Regions from separate parts of the Homo sapiens genome. Here regions 1 and 2 are each reported to be linked to region 3. Evidence: microRNA targets listed by miRTarBase, many of them from high-throughput screens and not tested one by one. Region 3 holds a microRNA gene; each other region holds the end of a gene's coding sequence.

Region 1 (4,211 bases), not on the chromosome of region 3:
TAGTCTTCAACGTGCCATTGTCAAGTTCCTGCCTTGGCTGGTGAAGGCAACCCACTGCTCCCCCAGCCAGTGCTCGGGGGCTGGTGTCCACATCCCTTGGTAGAGGACGCGCTGCCGTGACCTGGACAACCTCCCCGTTCCTGCATCCCAGCAACCTGCTAGAGCAGGGCCAGCCCTTCCACTCACCTGTGTGTCCCTCAAACCCTGCCCATTCCGTAAATTATGTTCCTGCGTAAATCATGTGACCTGGCCAATGAGTGGGCGTGCAACCCCTGATTCTAGCACATTAGGTCAAGGATACCAAGGACCAAAAAGTCTAGCTTTCACACTGCCATGTGCCCAAGCATGGTGGCTCGTGCCTGTAATCCCAGCACTTTGGGAGACCAAGGTGGAAGGATTGCTTGAAGCCAGGAGTTCCAGACCAGCCTGGGCAACAAAGTGAGACCCCAGCTCTACCAAAAAAAGGAGTTTTTTAATTAGCTGAGCATGGTAGCACATGCCTATAGTCTGTTATTCATGAGGCTGGTGCAGGAGGATCACTTGAGGCCAGGAGTTTAAGGCTGCAGTGAGCCATGATCTTGCCATTGCACTCCAGCCTGGGCAACAGGCTTTTTTTTTTTTTTTCCAAAAAAACCATATATATACAAATAATTAGCCAGGCATGGTGGCACACACCTGTAATCCCAGCTACTCAAGAGGCTGAGGCAGGAGAATCACTTGAACCCGGGAGGCGGAGGTTGCAGTGAGCTGAGATGGCGCCAATACACTCCAGCCTGGGAGCCAGATGAGTGAGATTCTGTCTCAAAAAAAAAAAAGTTATCATGCACCCAGGGATCTGGGAGTACAGAGCGGAACAGAGAGCTGTAAGGACATGACATTTATATGGCCTCACCACATCCAGCAGAGCAAAGTGTCCTAAGCTAGGAATCTCTTGAGACTCTAAATTTGATGCTCAGGGTCTGTCCCCCTGCAGCGGGAGGCCCACTGTAGTCTGGTGAAAAGCAGCCAGTGATCTCCCAGGGATGCAGGGAGGGAGGCGTGAGGAGCGCCTGTGTGTGCTGCCCTCTGAGGTGAGGTGGCCAGGGAGAGGGGGAAGCAAAGAGCACAGGGTGGGACACGCGGGCTGACCAGCTGAGGCAGCTCATGATGGTCCTTTCTTAGAAAGTCAGCCCCTCCGTGCCCCCTGCCACCACTCTGGCACCAACCCAAGGCAGGTGACCTGACTATGCGCCTAGAGGGAGATTTGCAGCCTCTTCCTACAAAGCCAAATTGCTTCCAGCTGTCCCTGATGTCCTGTGTCCTCAGCCTTGGACACCTGCAAGGCAAAGCCAGAGTTCAGCTGGGGGTGAAGGGCAGTAAACGTTTGACCAGAGCCCAGAGACTCTCAGCTCTGTCCTCGGGAGGCACTTCTGGCACCACCAAGGCAGGGGGAAGGAGCCCCTGCAGCCTCTGAAATCCAACCGACCCAGTCCAAGTCCCACCTCCTCCTAAGGCTGTGCAACCCGCTCACCGAACCACCTGCCCTGTGGTTTCCTCCCATTTAAACTGGGGATGAAAGGGCTGTTGCGAGGACTCCAGGACATAATGCGCCTGAAAGCACAGTACAGCCTGCAGCCATAGCGACTTCAGGGCATCTCTAGGCATCCTCCACAGGTGGCCGCCCGGTCACCTTGCGGGGAAGGAGAGGCGGAGGGCTGACATGAGGGACTGTTAGAAGCCTGGTCTTCAGACTCCCTCCAAGCTGCCCTTCCTGCTGAGCTGAAGACGCCCTCCCTGGCCTCGGGATAGGCAGCTCAGCAGCAGAGGCGACGCTGGGGAGGGAGGCAGGCTGGGCCAAGGCCTAGAAGACTGTTGGTGCCGCAGCCAGTTTAGCGGCCTGCTGTTCCTCTGAGCCCATCCTGCAAGCCCAGGTTAGAATTAGATGGCTCACAGACAGGCCCACACGCCGACATCCCGCCAGCCCGGCAGGTGGCAGGAACGCAGCACCTCCCGAGCAGGCTGAGGACCAGACGCCCCCTCGTGGCATCCTGTGGCCTTGCATGCCATTGCTCTCAGTCCAGGACCAGGCAAACGTAGGCTCCAATAGGAAAACGGCTAAGAAAGAAAGCGGAAGAGCGGGAGAGGGAAGGTAAATACTCCCAGGGCCAGCCCTGGGGCGAGCGGGCAAGGGAGGGCTGACATCCAGACGGATGGGGCTTTGGGATGTGAATCACAGAGGCCCCTCCAGAGAGCACGATCTGAAGGCTGCAGAAGAGTTCAAGGCACCCACATGCAGCCACGTCTTCACTCAAACCCAGCAACACCACACCACATGTGACTCATCAAAGTTTATTATGGCAATTAATTACACAAACATACAGGCGGTCGGTCATCCAGCTCAGAAGCACTCAAACCAGTAGAGTCCATTAGTGATTTCTCTTTATAAATAACTTAGGAGAAGCAAGCACATTTGGTAAAGAACCGGCAGCGCTGACCTAGCGTCACGCGGATGGCACATAGGCCGGGGAGGGGCAGGCACCAGAAGGTCAAGGTCCCTCCTTGGCCCCAGCAGCCCCGGGCCCACCAGATGCTGCGTCCTCAGGTAGTGGACATTTCAAGGCACGTACAACTTCCTAAGCAATAGCAGCTCCAGGCTCTTCCCTGAGACCTGGTTTACCTCTGGAACAACCAAGTTAACACTCATCACACCCCCTTTGTCTATTGTATTCATTCTTATTACTGAACATGCCCCAAACCCCACAGTGCAGGGGGCTGCATATTAAACAGAGACATAATCCCCACCCTTTACATTCTGAAGACAGGGAGGTGTGAAAAAATTGCCCCTAATGTAGTGATGGTGTTTTTTAAAAAGCACCATTTGGGAAGTAAAGTTAGGGCCTCTTTTGATGCCTGTCTTAGGATGGACACTGGGGGTGGGAGGATTACATCAACAGAGTGAGAAGGGGAGGGGAAGGGAGGGGGCTGCTTGTGAATGAGATTCAAGGCACTAAAGGAGTGGATGGATGCGTGGGCCTCGGGCAAAGTCGCCCTAAAGTGGGGACCCCAGAGGAGAGAAGGGAGGGTGGCTGGGGAGGTGACCTGGCCCTCCAATCCTAAACAAGCCCCAATGTGACCACAATCTCCAGGGCTAGAGCTGCCCGCTTCCCTCTGGCCAGAGGGCCCAAGGCAGCCCCCTGGGTTCTCCAACCACTGCAAGCAAGGTCTGGGGACAACCTTGACAACCCCCAGCCTTCTTGCTGGGCTGGCGCTGCTGCCACTCAAATAGGACATAGGACAAGCTTGTCTGACATCAGCTACTGGAGTTAAATTATGGCTTTATAGGACTCAAACCTGTTGTTTTTCCCAACTCTGTTCTCTCCCTCCAATCCAACCCCTGCCACAGTGCATGGGCAGGCTAGCCTTGAATGGACTGGACAGACACCAACAGCTGCATCCCTTGGCATGGGGCTCCATGTCAAATATGCCAAACCCCAGGGGAGATGGAGGGGGCTGGAGACCCGGGGCCTCCTCATAGAGATAACTCTGCACTGGGTTCAAATGGCCCTGAGTGCAGCCGCAAGTAGATGCTCATAAATGCGCACATGCGCTCACTCACACAGACACCGGCGAGAGGTGCTGGACTCCAGCCTGGCTAGCACCGCTGCAGCCAGGCACTGAAAGGAGGGGCTTCCAGGAGGACCTCTGGCCAGAAGGCCAGCAAGTGCCATGACCAGTCACACCGCCCAGTGCCTTGTCCCTCCAAGGCCTCTGGGTGCCGACGCAAGTCCACAGGGAGCACCAACGCCACTTCCAGTTGACCCTCGAATCTCGGCGATGGCTGGGCCAAAGGTTGAGCGTGGGTGGGACTAGGGAGGGGCCGAGGGCCAGGAGTGTGTCTAATACCCAGGCCAGGCAGGCCCCGGCGGTGGTGGGAACCCATAGGGAGGGGCGGGCCCGGGGGGATAAGGGGGCTGCAGGGGCACTGAGGGCTGGGGCTGGCCTGGAAAGCTGGGGAGCTGAGGCTGTATTGGGTAGGGAGGTTTTCCTCCTGTTGCGGGGTATGGGGACTGTTGAGGATAACCAGGACTGGGGGCCCTGCCTCCCCGCAAGGGGTACCCAGGCCCAGAGGCACCCATTGGGGTCCCAGGATAGCCCGGCCGGGGTGGCATGCTCCTCTGTGGGGACCAGGAGTAACCCGCAGCACCCCTGGGTCCAAGCTGGGCTGCCGGGTA
Region 2 (4,213 bases), not on the chromosome of region 3:
ACCGCAGCTCTCAGACGGGCACTGAACCTGGTGCCGCCCACACCTCCTCACCCCAGCCCTCCACCTCTCGGGGACTGCTCCCAGAGGCCGGGCAACTGGCAGAGCGAGGCCTAAGCCCCCGGACAGCTTCCTGGGACCAGCCTGGTACCCCTGGGCGGGAGCCAACCCAGCCAACCCTGCCCTCTTCCTCCCCTGTCCCCATTCCTGTTTCCCTTCCCAGCGCTGAGGGACCAACCCTCCACTGCGAGTTGACCAATAACAACCACCTTCTGGATGGTGGCAGCAGCAGGGGGGACGCTGCAGGCCCTAGGGGAGAACCACGGAACAGGTAGAGACAAACGTTGCACTGGTGCCTCCCCTCGAACCGCCAAGCAGAAACCGGACCTCACAGCTGACTGGGAACTGGACATGTGGAAGAGCTGCTGGCTGCATCAGGGAACAGGAGGAGGAAGAGGGTCAGGGTGGAGAGGAAGATCAGTCAGTGGGCACAAGACAGTCAAATGGGCAAGGCCTGCCTCGGGGAACTAGAACCTTCCAGGATCTGGAGCCCGGGAGAGCCACACTGTGGGCTTAATGTGAATAGAGGAACAAGTGGGTATCTCTGCCAGGCACCCCACTTTCTCCTAGTAACATGGGCTCAGGGGACTCAGCCCTGGACAGAGAGCCTCCAGAGAGTGAACAGTCTTCCAGATCTGGGCCAATCATCCTGGACAGAGGCCCGCGAGGCAGCTTTGCCCTGTCCACCTGTTGGGTGGGCAGAGCCACCAGGAACCCAGACACCACCTCCAACTCTGAGCCTTCCAGAGCTTCAGCCTCTCTTCGTCGTCTTACCCCACTGAAACCAACAGGGATCGGGCCAGGCTCCCAGATTCTTGAGGACAGGGACTTCGGCATTTACTAATGGGGGACTACTGTGGGGTAAGGGGGCGCCTGCTTGCCTGATACAGGATGGGGTCAAGGGACAGTGGGCAGGTCCTCACTCAGGAGTGGGGGGTGTAGGCTGGCCAGCCCCCAGGGCTTGTCCACCAGTCTTCTCCCCGCAAGGCCCTCAGAGCAGCGCCTGTGGGTGTCAGTATTACCTGAGCCTAGGCCAAAGCTAGCCCAAGGCTGGGGAAGGGGAGGAGACTCCAGGTCAGAATGTGAGGTCTCAGTCTGTGATTTAAGGTGTTGCATGTGGACTCTTAACTGTACGTGTAGTTTCTAGTGGAGAAATCAAGGCTCTGATCATTTTGTTTTTAGTATGAAAATGTGATTTCCTTTCTGTTTGTAACTCATCATAGAAACATTGTGGTGGGAGGAGAGGGGATAGTCTACAGCTAATGAGGGAAACACCAAAGATCACATCATTAAAATGATGACATGCCCCTCGCCAGGCTCCTCTCTCTTATTTCCAAGGAGGATGGGGGAGGGGTGGGGATTGGGAAGTGAGGGGCATTGAACTGGGCCAGGCCCAGGTTCTCCCGGCACTGTTTCTGGTGCTCTCCTAGTGGGGTGCAGTGGACCCCTCTGACCCCTTCGCCAGAGCTGGTCAGGTGAGGGCTGCCACCTCTGCTTCATACCACTTCTCTGTACGCCACCACTTCCTGCTTCCCCAGGGCCTGCTACAGACTGGGGCCACCTTCCAGTGCCAGGGTGAGTATGTAGGAAGGAACGACAGAAGGCTATTCATCCTAATAGCTTCCCACCCAGGACTACAGGCCTGAAGTGATGTAACTGGCCAGAAACCTGGATCCCCTCCAGTCCTGGGAAAGCACGCACAGCAGGTGTCCAGCCTGCTAGGCAGGTGGAGGGGCTTGGTCCTATCTGCAGGCAAGGTGCCAGTTGCTAGCTGCTCAGGTCTCCCTTGACTGTGTCTTCCCTACAGTGGCCGAAAGGCCTGCTCTATTCGTGGGCTTTGGCTGCTTGAAAGCTTCCAGCTGGCCAGGCGTGGTGGCTCACGCCTGTAATCCCAGCACTTTGGGAGACCGAGACAGGCGGATCACTTGAGGTCAGGAGTTTGAGACCAGCCTGGCCAACATGGTGAAACCCTGTCTCTGCTAAAAATACAAAAAAATTAGCCAGGCGTGGTGGCTCGCACCTGTAATCCTAGCTACTGGGGAGGCTTGAACCCTGGAGGCAGAGGTTGCGGTGAGTCAAGATCACGCCACTGCACTCCAGCCTGGGCAACAGAGTGAGACTCCGTCTCAAGTGGGAAAAGGATATTTGCCCCAACTCTTCAAGAGCTCTAATGGAAAATCCAAGCAATTCCAGGGCTTTTTGCCAGCAGCACGTACTTTTGAGTGTGTGTGTGTGTGCCCAAATCTGTCCCTGATGCCATGGGGCACTCAGAATTCCAGGTTCTGCTCCAACAGAGACAAAACCAAAAGATAAGTTGGCAAGCAAGAAATAAAAAACCATGGCCAGAGTTAGGAAGACTCTTATTTTCTAGAAAATTCTGTATTAGTGGACTCTGGACTGAAAGACACATCACTTAGCTGTGTGACTTTGGGCAAGCCATTTGCCTTTTCTGGGCTTCACTTTCCCTTGTTAGGATGCAGGGCTTGTACTACACAACCTCAAAGTTACTTCTAGTTCTGTACTTTGGAATCACTGAAGCCCAGAGAGCACACAAGTGGCTAGGGCAGGCTTCCTTTCAGAGGTGGGATTTAGACACCTGTAGTCCCTAAGTACTTGGGAGGCTGAGGCAGGAGGATCACTTGAGCCCAGGAGTCCAAGTCCAGCCTGGGCAACAAAGTGAGACCGTATCTCTCTCTCTCTTTTTTTTTTTTTTTTTTTTTGAGACGGAGTTTCGTTCTTGTTGCCCAGACTGGAGTGCAATGGTGCCATCTCGGTTCACCGCAACCTCCATCTCCCAGGTTCAAGCGATTCTCCTGCCTCAGCCTCCCTAGTAGCTGGGATTACAGGCATGAGCCACCACGCCTGGCTAATTTTGTATTTTTAGTAGAGATGGGGTTTCTCCGTGTTGGTCAGGCTGGTTTCGATCTCCCGACCTCAGGTGATCTGCCTGCCTTGGCCTCCCAAAGTGCTGGGTTTACAGGCATGAGCCACCGTGCCCGGCTGATGCTATCTCTTTAAAAAAAAAAAAAAGTGGATTTGAGCTAAGCATTGAAGGATGGAAGGAGAAGGGAGCCCACTGCCCCACATCCTCTCCCCACCACCCGTTGGAGGAAGAATTCCTTGGTCTGATAGTGGGTCCTGCTAATTTGTTTAATGTAAACCACAGGCCAGGAGTCAATGTGCGTTCTCTCTGTCAATCCTCACAAAAACTCTCTGAGGTCATTACTGCTGTTACCCCCAGAGCACACAATTAACTGGCAGAGCCAGAGTTTGAACCAAGTAGTGTATGATTCCAGAGTGCACACTTCAGCCAGTCATTTCTACAGAAGGAAGACAAGGTGTAGGAGAAACAATGGAACCCTGACTTGTTCTGTTGCTTTGGGGAAAAGGGTATGGGGAGGTCCCTAGGGATGAAGTGGTCCAAATTTGTTTTTTGGGTTTTTTTGTTTGTTTTTTGTTGTTTTGTTTTGTTTTGTTTTTGAGATGGAGTCTCTGTCACCCAGGCTGGAGTGCAATGGCACAATCTCAGCTCACTGCAACCTCCACCTCCCAGGTTTAAGCAATTCTCCTGCCTCAGCCTCCTGAGTAACTGGGATTACAGGTGTGTGCCACCACACCCAGCTAATTTTGTTTGTATTTTTAGTAGGGATGGGGTGTCACCATGTTAACCAGGCTGGTCTCAAACTCCTGACCTCAAGTGATCTGCCTGTCTCGGCCTCCCAAAATGCTGGGTTTGTGGGCGTGAGCCACCATCCGGCCAAGGTGGTCCAAATTTGGACCTGCCAGGCCTTGTCTCTGCTGTCTCTGGATGGTGCCAGCCACCCTCCCCAACCTCCCCACCCCCCATTGGAGGCCCTTGTCAACACCTCTCTGTCCCCACACCAGCCCCTTTCCTTAGAAAGCCCTTGCCCAATGACAGAGCCTCTCTGGTAGTAAAACCTTTGCAGGCCCCTTACACGTCACAAGGTTGTGGGGTCACCAGGGCAAAGATAGGGGCAGTCCCTTTTGGAGATGAGGAAATAGGTTCAGAGAAATTCTGTTACTTGTCTGCTGACCTAGTGGCATCAAAAGCAGAGCAGAGAAACCACCAAGTCCCCTTGTTCCCAATTCAGCTCTCCAGGGTTCCACCGTGGGTTCTTGGGGTTGGGAGATTGAG
Region 3 (4,213 bases):
TGTAACAACTTTTTTTACTCCGTTCAGTTCAACATACATTTATTGGGCAAGCAACAATGCTGGATATTGGGCAAGGCAAGGAAGGATAGAGAAGTTGGGGAACAAAGATAAATAATATGCAGTCTGTTGCCTCCAGAAACATAAAGCCTATTTGCATAAATAACTGATTTAATTATAAGGCAAATGGAATTTGATACTATAAAGGAGGCAAAGATATGCGAAGGCAGAGGAAGAAATAATGAGTGTTATAAAAGGTAATCAAAAGGGGCAAGAGGCAGGGAATTACAAGGCTTCATGAAGGAGGCAGCCTCTGAGCTAGGCCATGTAGAATGCATACAATGTCAATAGGTGAAGGAGAAAAGAGAATTCTAGGCAGAGGGAACAGGACAGAAAAGACACAGATGGAAGTAGAAAGGCTATGAGTGACTAAGTTGGAAGTGTAGGTTGAGGTCAGGTTGTGAAGGACCTTGAATTGAGTTCTGCAGGCAGTAAGGAGTCACCAAAGATTTTTGAGTAAGGGAGCCAAGTGCTCCCCTGCCAGCCTGAAACAACTGGGTTACTTCTAAGAAGCAATGAACTATTAGCTGATGTAAATCATGCTATTTGGGGGCCTCTTTGCTGCATCAGCTTAGCCTTACCCTAACCAATAAAAAGGCCCTCATTTTACAAATGAGGAACCTGAAGCTTAGAGGAGACAAGTGACTTAACCAGCATCATGTTACCATAACTCTACCACGTAGAACCAGGGCCAGACAGGAAATCTGGGCCTAGATATTCCATAGCCCCAAAAGATGTGATGATGGTGGCGGTGGTGGCAGTGGTGATGGTAATATGATGGTGATGATGGAGATTTTTTGTTTTCGATAAACTGGTGTTTCAAGGTTTTGTTTTTATACCTCTTCTTTACATTTTTCTATTTTTTAATGTAAAAGCATGGAACAGATTCGCCATATAATCATTTTAATCAATTTTCTGCGGTGATAACTTCCCTGCAACTTAATTGGCAAAGTTGTTTCCCAGACTAAAAGTACTATGGCATCATCTAAAAGTCACCTCAAAGAGACAGAACAATTCATTAAAAACCACTAATGTCTGCAGGGTTTAAAGATGTTAAGTGTTCATTTGGAGAATGAGAAATCAACGCACATTGACTTTTGCCATCCGGGTTTGTCACGCTCTGTGTCCGTGGGATGACTCACATTGCTAAAGCCCAAGTTTAATTAACATGCTTATTCTGTGCCGCTACTTCCATTCTAACAAATTAAATGTTTAAACAGCCAGTGCAAACATTTAGATCTGAGTCAAAATTGTTTGCACTCTGCCAGTTTAGGCATTTAATTTATTATAATCCTTTCCATAATATATACTTTGAAAGTCATTCTTTTGCACTGAAAAATATTGTTAGTATTTCAACTGATGCTATTGAATCTGAGACTATCAGAATGTGACGTGAGAACTAAATTGGACTGCAAATAAGGCCAATAAATGAGATAATAAATGAATCCTCATCTATCCTAACTTCCTCAATTGACCAAGTAATAATAATGACAGGTGCCAACTCAGGCCTGACTTTTGTCCCATAATCTCTGCTCTTGTGGAGAGATGCTATAAGATGAGACAAGGATCTTGCAAAGCTCGTAAACATTTCTTCTTAAGAGCCTTTCCTGGATTCTGACCTCTTCCTCCCTGCAGATGTTTTTTCAACATACAGAATTTTGCTAGCTTTCAACAACTTCCCCTTCCCTGGGCTAAAGAAACTGAAAATGCAATGGAAGAGAAATTATAACAAAAGCTTCATTGACGCAATGCTGACTGCACTGATAAAGATCTCAGGCAAGCAGCCAAAGAAGCTAGACAGAGAGAGGTTCCCAAGGAATGACCCTGTTTGGCCCCAGGTGACCACAAGGTGGCAGTGAAGGTCTTCTTCACCCTCCCCATTGGCACCACCCTCCCAGGCCCCGACCCCCAGGCACTGTGCCTCTTCCCCACTGTCTCCCAGGGAAACAAATGGATACACCCAGATCTAAAAAGCTGACACTTTTACATTTTTAATAAAGATAACTTGTGTTTTATTGTGAATAACATGGAAACTGGAAAATGATTGAAAATTTCCCCCAATAGCCCTTGCTTGAAGAAAATGGAGCATGGCGTTGGAACCAAGAGGAAAATATTGTAGAGTAATAGATGCTGGTCATGCAAACTCATTAGATCTCAGCTTCCTCATCTACAGAATGAGAGGTTAGGTTCCTCTCATCCCTGAGGTTTCTTCCAGTACCCTTCCAGAGACAATAGCATGGATCAAACTCATCAACCAAGGGAGAGGGGTCAGTTTCAGGAGACACCAATTGGTTTGTTACTGTGTGCTAATCAAGGTCACGTGCCACTGAAAACCTGAATGCATTCACTCTCTGATTCTTCAGGCTTCCATCTCCTGCTCAGAAATCATTCAAGGTCTTCCACAAAACATTCCAGATTGTTTATACTTTGAGATTGAATTATATAGAGTCAAGCTTGGTCAGATTTTATAATGAAGCTATATCTACCCAAAAATTGGCTGGTGAAGGAAAGGAGGAAATCGTTGAATCTAGCCAATTTGTTGTTTCTGAAAGCAATCAACTCAGATCAATCCAGCTTTGTTTGTTTTTCCAAATAATGTAGGTCATTTAGACACACGATAGGGCTTTCTCCTAGAGCCACCTCAAGGAACTACCCATTCAAAAGGGCTTTGTTAAATGAGAATGGATGCCTGCACCTCAACACACGCTCACTATTTAAATGCCAGGAGGGTTAACTGAGAAGTAACAGACAAAAGTCTTCCCACTGAATATCTATGCTGAGGCATTTTTAAATGTTTTTAATGTCTAAGGGTTGTAATTAAGTGAGGCATTAATTAGCTTTTCTAAACCACTTTTTAAAAAGTTAATCATAATTAGCATTAATTAAATACTATGTTCCAGACAATGTGTTAAGCACATTATATGTATTACCTCATCAATTCTTATTCCAACCCTATAAAGAAGGAACTGATACTTCCCCAATTTTATAGATGCAGAAACTGAGGTTTCAGGAGATGAGGTCACCTATCCAGGTTCACACGGCTGAAAACCAGGTATGCATGCCTGATTGCAAAGTCCCAGCTCTCTCTTTTTTTTTTTTTCAGACAGAGTTTCGCTCTGTCGCCCAGGCTGGAGTGTGGTGGCAGGATCTCGGCTCACTGAAAGCTCCACCTCCCAGGTTCACGCCATTCTCCTGCCTCAGCCTCCTGAGTAGCTGGGACTATAGGTGCCCGCCACCATGCCTGGCTAATTTTTTTTTTTTTTTTTTTTTTTTTTTTTTTGGATTTTTAGTAGAGACAGGGTTTCATCGTGTAAGCCAGGATGGTCTCGATCTCCTGACCTCGTGATCCACCCGCCTTGGCTTCCCAAAGTGCTGGGATTACAGGCATGAGCCACCACGCCTGGCCACAAAGGACCCAGCTCTTGAAGGAAGTTTATCCAGCCCCAATTCCGTTTTTCATGTCTTCATAATCCCCGAGGATGTTTTTTTTGTTTTATTTTGTTTTTTTGAGATGGAGTCTTGCTCTGTTGCCCAGGCTGGAGTGCAATGGGGCAATCTCAGCTCACTGCAACCTCCACCTCCCGGATTCAAGCGATTCTCCTGCCTCAGCCTCCCGAGTAGTTGGGATTACAGGCGCCCACCACCACGCCCAGCTAATTTTTGTATTTTTAGTAGAGATGGGATTTCGCCATATTGGTCAGGCTGGTCTCAAACTCCTGAACCCAGGTGATCCACCCGCGTCAGCCTCCCAAAGTGCTGGGATTACAGGCATGAGCCACCACGCCCGGCTGATTCCTCTTTTTTACTGGCACCTGTGTCAGTATTACACATTTATAAGTATTTTAATATTTCTAAAATGAGACCAACTCATCAAAAATTTGCAGAGGAAATCCCCAACTCCTTATAGTGGAAAGAGTACCAGGGTCGCTTAGGGTTGCTCTCCATCTCTGTACCATTTACAAATAAATGCTGCTGGTCCCAGGCTCTGCATCAAATTTACCACCTAAGGAGATTCCACACTCTTCAAGGAATCCACCACAGTGGCCTCAGCTATCTTTGAACTGCCTTTCCTCTTGTCTTAATGCTCAATGAACACAGAGAACAGCCAACTTTTCCTTCTGATTCTGAACTTGAGGACGATCAAGAAAACACACGA

Evidence for each region. The annotated mature microRNA hsa-miR-759 reads GCAGAGUGCAAACAAUUUUGAC and lies in region 3 at 1,301-1,322, opposite strand. An mRNA with a match to its seed (bases 2 to 7 or 8) in the 3' UTR can be bound and repressed. Matches are read on the target gene's strand: a 7mer-m8 pairs with bases 2 to 8, a 7mer-A1 pairs with bases 2 to 7 and ends in A, and an 8mer does both.
Region 1: miRTarBase lists VPS37C as a target of hsa-miR-759. Seed matches in the 3' UTR shown: 7mer-m8 at 2,931-2,937.
Region 2: miRTarBase lists AMBRA1 as a target of hsa-miR-759. Seed matches in the 3' UTR shown: 7mer-A1 at 789-795.

The regions. Positions count from the first base shown.
Region 1 is chr11:61,127,945-61,132,155 of GRCh38, forward strand. It overlaps VPS37C (VPS37C subunit of ESCRT-I), which reads right to left. Exons shown (of 5, transcript NM_017966.5): 5 at 2,313-4,211. The coding sequence ends at 3,876. Among named protein-coding and RNA genes, the nearest start is that of CD5, 28 kb to the left of the region's middle. RefSeq lists an enhancer at 1,853-2,147.
Region 2 is chr11:46,393,569-46,397,781 of GRCh38, reverse strand. AMBRA1 (autophagy and beclin 1 regulator 1) reads left to right here. Exons shown (of 18, transcript NM_001387011.1): 18 at 1-1,368. The coding sequence ends at 332. Among named protein-coding and RNA genes, the nearest start is that of CHRM4, 3.9 kb to the right of the region's middle.
Region 3 is chr13:52,807,182-52,811,394 of GRCh38, reverse strand. MIR759 (microRNA 759) reads right to left here and starts at 1,345; the gene lies at 1,255-1,345.